3 linked regions of the Homo sapiens genome follow. The protein of the gene in region 1 interacts with the protein of each later gene in a pairwise test. Each region holds a gene or a part of one and is shown in the gene's direction. Other genes may lie near its edges.

Evidence for each region.
Region 2: the proteins of FSD2 (region 1) and ZNF20 interact in binary tests that used the Homo sapiens proteins (3 or more experiments, as listed by UniProt).
Region 3: the proteins of FSD2 (region 1) and DTNB interact in binary tests that used the Homo sapiens proteins (3 or more experiments, as listed by UniProt).

What each region holds. Positions count from the first base shown.
Region 1 is NC_000015.10:82,764,443-82,768,195, reverse strand, and holds part of FSD2 (fibronectin type III and SPRY domain-containing protein 2), read left to right. Parts: intron 1-2,164; coding exon 2,165-2,298; intron 2,299-2,897; coding exon 2,898-3,030; intron 3,031-3,753.
Region 2 is NC_000019.10:12,133,613-12,137,365, reverse strand, and holds part of ZNF20 (zinc finger protein 20), read left to right. Parts: intron 1-1,461; coding exon 1,462-1,597; intron 1,598-1,805; coding exon 1,806-1,866; intron 1,867-3,380; coding exon 3,381-3,753. UniProt on the Homo sapiens protein: May be involved in transcriptional regulation.
Region 3 is NC_000002.12:25,666,937-25,670,689, reverse strand, and holds part of DTNB (dystrobrevin beta), read left to right. Parts: intron 1-3,753.

The sequences.
Region 1 (3,753 bases):
AAAACAAAAGAGATTGCAGCTGAATGTACAAAGAATGTTTCATCTATCACAGAAGACTGTCTGGAAGCTCATGTTCACCCCTCATTCTCAGAGAGCTAGAGGGGTTCACAAATTGATAAGGGTTGGACTCAGTGACCACAAGGGCTCGCAGAACCTATGAGTTTACAGCAGCCTATGATGGAGGAAGCATAGGTTTACCTCTGGTTTACAGAAGTTTGTGAAAGGGGATGAACCACCCAGGCAGGCCAGCACCAGCCACCAGGACCAGGGGCTCCCCTGCTGTGGAACACAGGGGTGCACTGACCTGGAGCTGGAGAAATGAAGAGGTGTTGGTGTCAATTGTTAGGGAAGCAGATTCTTCTATGCTAAATGCCAGGCTTGAAACGTGGCCATATGCCACCCATCCATCTGTTCCAGGTGGAATCTGTGTGTCCATGGCCACACAGAGGCTGACTTTGGTAATCCACTCTGGAGATACTCAGGAGTGGGGCAGTGTGTCCAGTGGTTCTGGCCATCCTAATGGTTCAGGTTTCCTTTGCAATTTATGCTGATACTTTAGGAGCACTTGACACCTGGGACCAACTCACAATGATGAGGTCATCAGAGGGCTGGTCAGTAACCTGAGAGATGACCTGAGAGCTGGTGCATATTCTTCCAGTACAAATCCAATCATGGCGACCCATTGCTGAAGAAAAGGCAAAACTCCTTCACAGGCTCTGGCCCCTTCCTGCCTCTCCAGCTCCTCCCACACCAGCTCCCCTCCCTCTCAAGATCCCACCACATTGGTCATGTTTCAGTTCCTCCTACTTTTCATGCTCCTTCCTGCCACAGGGCCTTGGCACATGCTTCTCCTATGTAGGAGACTCCTCTGTCCCTTTTTCATCCAGTTACCTCCTCAGCATTCTTCAGAGCTCTGCTCAAAAGCCATCCTGCCCCCACCATTATACACTACAGCACACTATCAACTTGTCTTGGTTACCATCTTACATTCCTTCCAGTGATTGCCTGAAGAATGCTGCTCTTCCCATCTAGACTGTAAGCTCTATGAGGGCAGGAACTACATTTGTTTTTTCTGAGGGCCTCCCTATACAGTGCCTGGAACCTAAGGAGTTTAGTTAACATTTATTGAATGCATAAGTAAAAGTGCCCCTCTGGCCCAGAGCTGCAGCCTGAAGATAACCTGGACAACTTGGCCTCATCTGGGTGAGGGTGTTGTATTGGTAAATGGGCATCATCCTAAAGACTTCTCTTGCCCACTGGACTGACATGGGGTTGGCAACCGCAGCAATATAGACAGTGGCAATTATGAGCTTATATTTCTGTATAGTACAATTTAAATACATTGGATTATTTCCAATAGGCAGCTGTTAGGGGGTTAACAGCAGTTAACACTTTCAGCTCTAGTCAGAATTGTTTGCTCATAAACATAAATCAAGGACCTTTTTTTTTTTTTTTTTGAGACAGTCTCACTCTGTCGCCCAGGAGTGCAGTGGCGTGATGATCTCGGTTCACTGCAACCTCCAACTCCCAGGTTCAAGCAATTCTCCTGCCTCAGCCTCCTGAGTAGCTGGAATTACAGGCACCTGCCACCACACTCGGTTAATTTTTGCATTTTTAGTAGAGACGGGGTTTCACCATGTTGGCTAGGCTGATCTCGAACTCCTGACCTCAAGTGACCCACCCGCCTCAGCCTCCCAAAGTGCTGGAATTACAGGCATGAGCCATTGCACCTGGCTGAATTGACGGCCTTCTATGGGCCCAGTACTGTACTAAGAATAGCGGTACTCAGCCCCTGACCTCAGAGACATTATGATCCTAACAGACGGACAGAGACACACTGGATTCTACTGCATGCACACTCCATGATGCAGTGTTAACCATATGCCAAGCACAGTGCTGGGTGCCTGGGAAACCAGAATGAGGGACTTGGAGAGGAGACAGCCACAAACACAAGAAGTAGCAATGAAGTGAGAAAAGCAGACCAGAGACTGTGGGAGGGAATGCAGAGGGGGAGCCAGCACTCCTGGCTATGCTGCTGTTAAATGTGGGTCAGAGGACAGGAGCGCAAGAGTGAGTTAAACCTTCCAGCTTTGAAAGGGATGCCTGGTGCTTGGGCCTGGGTGTCCTAGCCCCATTCTGACTGCAGCTCTGCTTCCTTGTACAGGTCTGTTGTGGGCATCCCGACCTGCGAGTCCGTGGTGCAGCTGCAGCCGGGGCGGAGCTACATTATCTATGTGCGAGCCCTCAATATGGGGGGCCCCAGCGTGAGGAGCGAGCCAGCTACAGTCCACACCATAGGTCTGTGCCCCAGCCCACAAAGTCTCTGGGACCCAAAGTGGCCACTCTGTGGCAGACCCAGTGCTGCTATGACTTCACTGGGAAATTGATGAATATGCACAGATGTGGACACGTGGCAAGTCAGGCCAGAAGGAGTTCAGGGGTGTCCCATACTGCCCTAATTGCAAGTCAAATGGATCATTAAGAAGTCCTTCAATTCCTATTTCCCTTGGCAAATAGGTTAGAAATTCTTATCCATACACAGGCATTACAGCTAGAGGTAAAGAGCACAGCCTCTGGAATCAGAGGGGCTTGGGGTTCAAGTTTAAGTTCTATCATTTGCCAGCTGATTTCTTAACCACCTTGTGCCTCTGTTTCCTCATCTACAAAATGGAAATAGTGACACCTGTTTCTAAGGGTCGTCGTGAGGATTGAAGGGGATACTAGGCACACAAGACTGCCCGATGAGTGTCAATTGCCATCCTTGTTAACTGGACGCCTATTACTAGGCCAGGTCCAGGCTTAGGTGTATCCCACACGAAGCTAAACCGGTGACCACCGCCCACATGGAGAAAGCAAGTGATTGGCTGCGGGTCTTCTGTGTGTTCCTCCTCCCACAGGAAGCTACTTTCGCCTAAACAAGGACACTTGCCATCCCTGGCTGACCATTTCTGAAGACGGACTTACGGCTGTACGAAGTGAAAGGAGAACCCCCGCCAGGGAGCTGTCACCCAGCGACACTCACTTCACCAGGTACTTTGTCAACCGCTCACAAGGGCGTTCTGTGAACTTCCCGAAGGTGCACTGTTATTCAGGTCAAATCCGAATATGGCACGGAGGCAGCCTCGAGGGAAAAGGAATCCTACAAATGAGTGAGGAGGGAGGAGCCTAATGGGGAGGGGACCCAGAGGAGTGTGGGCAAGAGGGGTCAGGCAGGTGCAGGCAGAAGAGCCCCCTGGGACGGTGAGGTCAGGAGAGGGCGCGGTCCCCTGGGAGGGCATGGTCCCTGGGTCCTAGGCTGCCAGAGCTGGAGCAGCCAGAGGTCATGAGGGTGGGACAGGAATTACTAGTGGAGGGTGTCCAAGTTCTTGGCGTTCTGAACAAAGAATTGGACAAAATGCACAAACAAAGCAAGGAAAGAGGCCAGGCACGGTGGCTCATGCCTGTAATCACAGCACTTTGGGAAGCCGAGGCAGGCAGATCACCTGAGGTCAGGAGTTTGAGACCAGCTTGGTCAACATGCTGAAACCCCATCTCTACTAAAAATATAAAAATTAGCCGGGCCTGTTGCGGGTGCCTGTAATCCCAGCTACTCGGGAGGCTGAGGCAGAAGAATTGCTTGAACCCGCGGGGCGGAGATGGCGCCACTACACTCTAGCCTGGGCAACAGAGTGAGACTCCTTCTCAAAAAAAAAAAAAAAAAAAAGCAAGTAAAGAATGAAGCAACAAGAGCAGAGATTTATTGAAAACGAAAGC
Region 2 (3,753 bases), on another chromosome or scaffold:
GTGGATAACTGGAAACTGTTGAGGTCAAGTGCAGCTTTCTTCTTCTTCTTTTTTTTTTTTTTTTCTGAGACAGTCTCTTTCTGTCGCCCAGGCTGGAGTGAAGTGGCGCTCTCTCAGCTCACTGCAACCGCCGCTTCCCGAGTTCAAGCGATTCTCCTGCCTCAGCCTCCCGAGTAGCTGGGATTACAGGCACGCACACACCCGGCTAATTTTTGTGTTTTTTAGTAGAGAGGGAGTTTCACCATGTTGGCCAGACTGGTCTTGAACTCCTCACCTGAAGTGATTGGCCTGCCTTGGCCTCCCAAAGTGCTGGGATTACAGGCATGAGCCACTACACACGGCTTGAGTACGGGTTTCTTCTGTTATAAGAAAGTGAAACCCATAATGAAAATGCATGGTAAGGTAACATAAGAAGTCACGGTAACAGGCAACTCTAGAATTAATTCATATGGAGATGATGGGCTTCAAAGATTGTTTGTTCTCCTGTAGGTAACCATCTGTCCCTGTTCCTTCTGGTAAGTGAGGACCACTTGCATAATTGGCTGGTGATACCTGCTTTGTCGTGGTTTCACTATTTTCAGAATCTGCTGTTTTCCATTAGTCTATCTTTCCATCTGTTAATACCATTTTCTCTTGATTAGTATAGATTTTATTTATTTTATTTTATTTTATTTTTTCGAGACGGAGTTTCACTCTTGTTGCCCAGGCTGGAGTGCAATGGTGCAATCTCAGCTCACCGCAATCTCTGCCTCCCGGGTTCAAGTGATTCTCCTGCCTCAGCCTCCCAAGTAGCTGGGATTACAGGCATGTGCCAACATGCCCAGCTAATTGTGTATTTTTTTTTTTAATAGAGACAGGGTTTCTCCATGTTGGTCAGGCTGGTTTCGAACTCCCGACCTCAGGTGATCCGCCCACCTTGGCCTCCCAAAGTGCTGGGATTATAGGCATGAGCCACTGCGCCTGGCCTATTTATTTTATTATTATTTTTTTGAGATGGAGTATTGCTTTGTCGCCCAGGCCGGAGTGCAGTGACGCGATCTCGGCCCACTGTAACCTCTACCTCCTGGGTTCAAGTAATTCTCCTACCTCAGCCTCCCGAGTAGCTGGGACTACAGGCACCCACCACCACGCCTGGCTGATTTTTATATTTTTAGTAGGGACGGGTTTCTCCATGTTGGCCAGGCTGGTCTCAAACTCCTGACCTCAAGTGATCTGCCTGCCTCAGCCTCCCAAAGTGCTGGGATTACAGGCGTGAGCCACCGCGACTGGCCAAAGACCCTCTCTCTTAACAAAAAAAGGGTTGGTTTGTGGGAGGACGTGAGTATAGACAGAAAGTAAGAGGTGTGATGACCAAGTCATGGGATAAATGTTTGGAGTCCACAGTATCATGAGAACTTCTTAGGAATAAAGTATAGGCCTCCAGGGCTGTTAGTCTTACCTGTCCTCTTTTATATATGTGAGATGTTTCAGGATTCAGTGGCCTTTGAGGATGTGGCTGTCAGCTTCACCCAGGAGGAGTGGGCTTTGCTGGATCCTTCCCAGAAGAATCTCTACAGGGATGTGATGCAGGAAACCTTCAAGAACCTGACCTCTGTAGGTAAGAATGACAATATTACTTCCCAGTGAATTAGAGAACAAATGCTTCTAGCTCATCAATGCTGTTCATTGATTTGGAACATGGACAAAAAATACTTTGATGAATAAATCAGGCATGGCTACCATGTACCATGAATACAGAATCTAATGATTTTTAAATAAATTCATACTAATTCTGGATCTGTGTTTTCTCCGGGTCTGTGTTTTAGGAAAAACATGGAAAGTTCAGAACATTGAAGATGAGTACAAAAATCCCAGGAGAAATCTAAGGTAATTTTCTCTCGCAAGACAAGGCAATGCCTCTAGAAAATCTTAAAATGTGAGAAAATAGGCCGGGTACAGTGGCTCACGCCTGTAATCCCAGCACTTTGGGAGGTCGAGGTGGGTGAATCCCAAGGTCAGGAGTTCGAGACCAGCCCGGCCAATATGGTGAAACCCTGTCTCTACTAAAAATACAAAAAAATTAGCTGGGCGTGGTGGCACATGCCTGTAGTCCCAGCTACTTGGGAGGCTGAGGCAGGAGAATTGCTTGAATCTGGGAGGCAGAGCTTGCAGTGAGCCGAGATCGCACCACTGCACTCCAGCCTGGGTGACAGAGCGAGACTCCGTCTCAAAAAAAAAAAAAAAGTGAGAAAATGTTAAAAAGAAGCAAAAGAAATAAGCCCAGTATCAAATTTATGTATTCATAGAAAGTTTTCCTAAAAACATATGTTTAAATGTAACATACGCTGGGCTGGGCACTGTTGCGCATACCCCCAAATGCCAGTCCTTTGGGGCTTTCAGACCAAAGGATTGCTGGAGGCCAGGAGTTTGAGGCTGCAGTGAGCCATGTTGGTACCACTACACTCCAATTTGGACAACAGGGTGAGTTGAGACCCCAACTCAAAAAAAAAGACGCACATGTTTAGTATTTGTAAAATAGTTTACTTGAAAATAGGATTACAAAGCCCCATAGAAATACTAATTTTAAAAAAATATATATACCCAGACCATCTTGTAGAGCATATAGTCCATTAATATTCAAATGATTCAGACAGAGCAGAAAGCTGACACTTTGCCGGGCAGTGTTAACAATGCAAGTGCAATAGTTGTTAATGATATAAATCATGTTTTTTTCTTCTTTTTTGAGACAAGAGTCTCGCTGTGTCACCCAGGCGGGAGTGGAGTGGTGTGGTTTTAGCTCACTGCAACTGCCACTGCTTGGGTTCGAGGTATTCTCGTGCCTTAGCATCCCAAGTAGTTGGGATTACAAGCGCACGCCGTCACACCTAGCCAATTTTTGTATTTTTAGTAGAGACAGGGTTTCGCCATGTTGGCCAGGCTGATCTCAAACTCCTGGCCTCAAGCCATCTGCCCGCCTCAACCTCCCATGGTGCTGGGATTACAGGCGTGACCCACCATACCCAGCCAATATAGATCACTTTTTTATTTTTTTATTTTTTTTTGAGACAGAGTTTCGCCCTTGTCACCCAGGCTAGAGCACAATGGCGCAATCTCAGCTCACTGCAACCTCTGCCTCTGGGGTTCAGGCGATTCTCCCAACTCAGGCTCCCGAGTAGCTGGGATTACAGGCACCTGCCACCACGCCCAGCTAATTTTTGCATTTTTAGTAGAGACGGGGTTTCACCATGTTGGCCAGGATGGTCTCAAACTCCTGACCTCAGGTGATCTGCCCACCTCAGCCTCCCAAAGTGCTGGGATTACAGGAGTGAGCCACTGTGCCCGGCCCTATAAGTCACTTTTAATCAAACCGTTAATAATGTGCTTCTCATTTTTCACTGAAGTCTTATGAGAGAGAAACTCTGTGAAAGTAAAGAAAGTCATCACTGTGGAGAAAGCTTCAACCAGATTGCAGATGACATGCTGAACAGGAAAACTCTTCCTGGAATAACACCATGTGAAAGCAGTGTGTGTGGAGAAGTTGGCACGGGTCATTCATCTCTTAATACGCATATCAGAGCTGACACTGGACACAAGTCATCTGAGTATCAGGAATATGGAGAGAATCCATATAGAAATAAGGAATGTAAGAAAGCCTTCAGTTATCTTGACTCCTTTCAATCACATGATAAAGCTTGCACTAAAGAGAAACCCTATGATGGTAAAGAATGTACAGAAACCTTCATTTCCCATTCATGCATTCAAAGACACAGGGTA
Region 3 (3,753 bases), on another chromosome or scaffold:
GAGCATCAGAGCTGTGGCACCTAGTTGTGTAGATTGTATTCTGCCCAGCTTTAGGGAGCACCATTCACATTGGAGTCCTTGTGCCTGGCAGCTGCTGGAGTTGTGTAGTGCACACTCTGTGTGACTGTGTGCTGCAACTCTGCAGGTGGCTCAGAACACACACTCACTTGTCAGATACTCAAACAGTACAGACAGAATAAAGGCCCCCTTGACCTACTCACGGAAACAAGTTATCAGTTTTTGTGGTCTTTCCAGACTATTCTCTATGTATTTTCATGTATATATAGGGAACACAAACTCATCTGATACTCAAAACAGTATAGACAGAATAAAGGCCCCCTTGACCTACTCACAGAAACAGAAGTTATCAGTTTTTGTGGTCTTTCCAGGCTATTCTCTATGTATTTTCATGTATATATAGGTAATACAGAATAAAAAAAGAGCAGAGTTTTTTCTCCTCTGCATTAATGACATCATACCATACACATTGTTCTGCAGTTTTTTCCCCTAACAGAATGATTTTGAGATTTTTTCATGTTGGAACACAGGAATCAACCTGAGTCTTCTTAACTACTACACAATCTCTTATGTAGTATGTATCGTAGTTTATTTAGTATTCTCATTAAGGACCGTTGCTGCAGTGAATGAAAAACTACAGTTGCTGGGTCAGAGGTATGCGTTTTACTTCATAACTGATGGGGCTATAACCATGTTGCTGCTTGTGGATTTAATCCATTTATTTTCAACTGCTTAGTGTATTCAGTTGTAGGCTTTTTTTTTTTTTTGAGATAGGGTCTTCCTCTGTCGCCCAGACTGGAGTGCAGTGGCACTCCAGGGCTCAAGTGATTCTCCCAAGTAGCTGGGACTACACTTGCGTGCCACCATTTAAAATTTTTTGTAGAGATGCAGTCTCGCCATGTTGCTCAGGCTGGCAAGTGATCCTCCCAAAGCGTTGGGATTACAGGCATGAGCCCCTGCACCTGGCCCGGTTGTGGACTTACATCACAGCGCACGTGTCCTTTTACTCACTGAGGAACAGTTGGGTTCCTTTAGATGCTGATTCTTCAGTGGGTCTGTGTGTTGCAAATGCATCCTGCCAGCCCTAGGCTTTTCTTTCCCTTTGTTAACAATGTATTTGGTTGTATATACCATTTAAGTTTAATGTCATATTTATGAAAAATTTCCCTTAAATGGCTTGTCTTTTTTTGGGTGTGTATCTGGTTTAAGAAAATTTTCTGTCTCTCATGGTGTTAATGATATATTCTTAGAGTTTCTTCCAAAAGTTTAAAAAAGTTTTGCTTTCCAGATGGAATTTATTTCTATGTATGGTATAATGAAAAGATACAATTTTTTTTTCAATTTGGATGACCAGTTTTTCAGCACTCTAACTTTTTTTATTATAGTAAAATACACATAACATAAAAATAACAATTTTAACCATTGTAAGTGTACAGTTCTGTAGCATGAAATACATTCACATTGTTGCACAGCCATCACCACTGTCTCCAGAGCTTTTTCATCATCCCCAACTGAAACTCTGTACCCCTTAAACACCAGCTCCCCATTCTTCCCTCAGCGCCTGGCAACCACCATTCTACTTTCTGTCTCTATGAATTCGACTACTCTAGGTACCTCATATGAATGGAATCATTACAATATTTGCCCTTTTGTATCTGGCTGATTTCACTTAGTATAATGTCCTTAAAGTTCATTCATATTGTAGCATGTGTGAAAATTTCCTTTTTAAGGCTGAATAATATTCCATGGTATGAATATACCACATTTTGTTTATTCATTCATTGATGGACATTTGGGTTGTTTCCCCGTTTTGGCCATTACAAGGAGTGCTGCTATGAACATTGGTATCTGTATGTCTGTTTAAGTCTCTGTTTCCATTTCTTTTGTGTATGTACTCAAGTGCAATTGTCAGTAATACAGTTTTTAAAACAATATACATAATGGAATAAAAATAGATTAACACAATTTTGACCAATGTGGCTGAATAGTATGGAGTTTCCATATACCCACTCTTTCCCATATGGTTTCTCCTATTATTAACATCTTGCATTAGTATGCTACATTTATTATAATTGATAAACTAATATTGATACATTGTTGTTAAAGTTCATGATTTAGAGTTCACTCTTTGTATTGTATAGTTCTATGGGTTTTGACAAGTGCGTAATGTCATGTATCATTTACATGGCATGACTGCATGCTACAACCCTGCAAGGGGCTCACTTGTAAAATACTCAACAGTACAGACAGAATAAATGTCATTACATGGCTATAGTTTTACCTTTTCCAGAGTTGGAAATGTCATAGATTTGGAATCATGTAGTATGGAGCCTACTCAGATTGGCTTCTTTTGCTTAGCAGTATGCATTTAAGTTTCCTCTAAGTCTTTTTTGCGACTTGATAGCTCATTTCTTTTTTTTATTTTTATTTTTTGAGACTGAGTCTCACTCTGTGGCCCAGGCTGGAGTGCAGTGGCGCGATCTCGGCTCACTGCGAGCTCTGCCTCCCGGATTCACACCATTCTCCTGCCTCAGCCTCCCGAGTAGCTGGGACTACAGGCGTCCGCCACCATGCCTGGCTAATTTTTTGTATTTTTAGTAGAGACGGGGTTTCACCATGTTAACCAGGATGGTCTCGATCTCCTGACCTCATGATCCGCCTGCCTTGGCCTCCCAAAGTGCTGGGATTACATGCGTGAGCCACCGCGTCCGGCCAGCTCATTTCTTTTTAGCGCCGAATGATAATATTCCTTTTTATGGAAGCACCACAGTTTGTTTATTCGTTCACCTACTGAAGGACATCTTGGTTGCTTCTAGTTTTTGGCAATTTTTGAATAAAACTGCTATAAACATCCGTGTGCAGGTTTTTGTGTAGACATTAAATTTGTAACTCACTTGGGAAAATACCTAGGAGAGTGATTGCTGGGTCGAATGGTAAGAATATATCAAGCTTTGTAGGAAACTATTAAACTATCTTTCAAAGTGACTGTATCATTTGCATTCCCAATAATTTTTAAAATTTATGTCCAAGTACCCTAAATGTACTTATATAATAAGTATGTCAGACTGTTCTGTAAAGTTAAACTTCACCTGGAATAATATTTAGTCATTGGTTTTGTTGGCTGTCTTTCTTGCAGTGTATCTCTTCATGTGTTTTGAAGTACAGACTTTTTTTTTTGAGATGGAGTCTGGCTCTGTCGCCTAGGGTGGAATACAGTGGCATGATCTCAGCTCACTGCAGCCTCTGCCTCTACCTCCCAGGTTCAAGCGATTCTCCTGCCTCAGCCTCCCGAGTAGCTGGGATTATAGGCACCCGCCACCACGCCTGGCTAATTTTTGTATTTTTAGTAGAGACAGGGTTTCACCATGTTGGCCAGGCTGGTCTCAAACTCCTGACCTCAAGTGATTCGCCTGCCACAGCCTCCCAAAGTGTTGGGATTAAAGACGTGAGCCACCACACCCAGCCAAATTACAGACCCATTTTCAGAGTGAGTGCTTTTGATTTTGTTTTCTTTTCTTTTTTTTTTTTTTAATTTTGTTTTCTTCTGTGCCCACTGTCCTCTGTGTGGTGATATTTCAGGTGCTTCAGCTGACCTACTGGGCCTCAGTCTAGAATCAGATATGATAATTGTGGGTCAAGGGTCCTGCCCTTTGAGTTAATTGGGCTATTTTCGATCCTCTCATAGAGTATGGTCCTGAGGCTGTTTATATCTTCCCACTTATCTAAGCCTAGAGT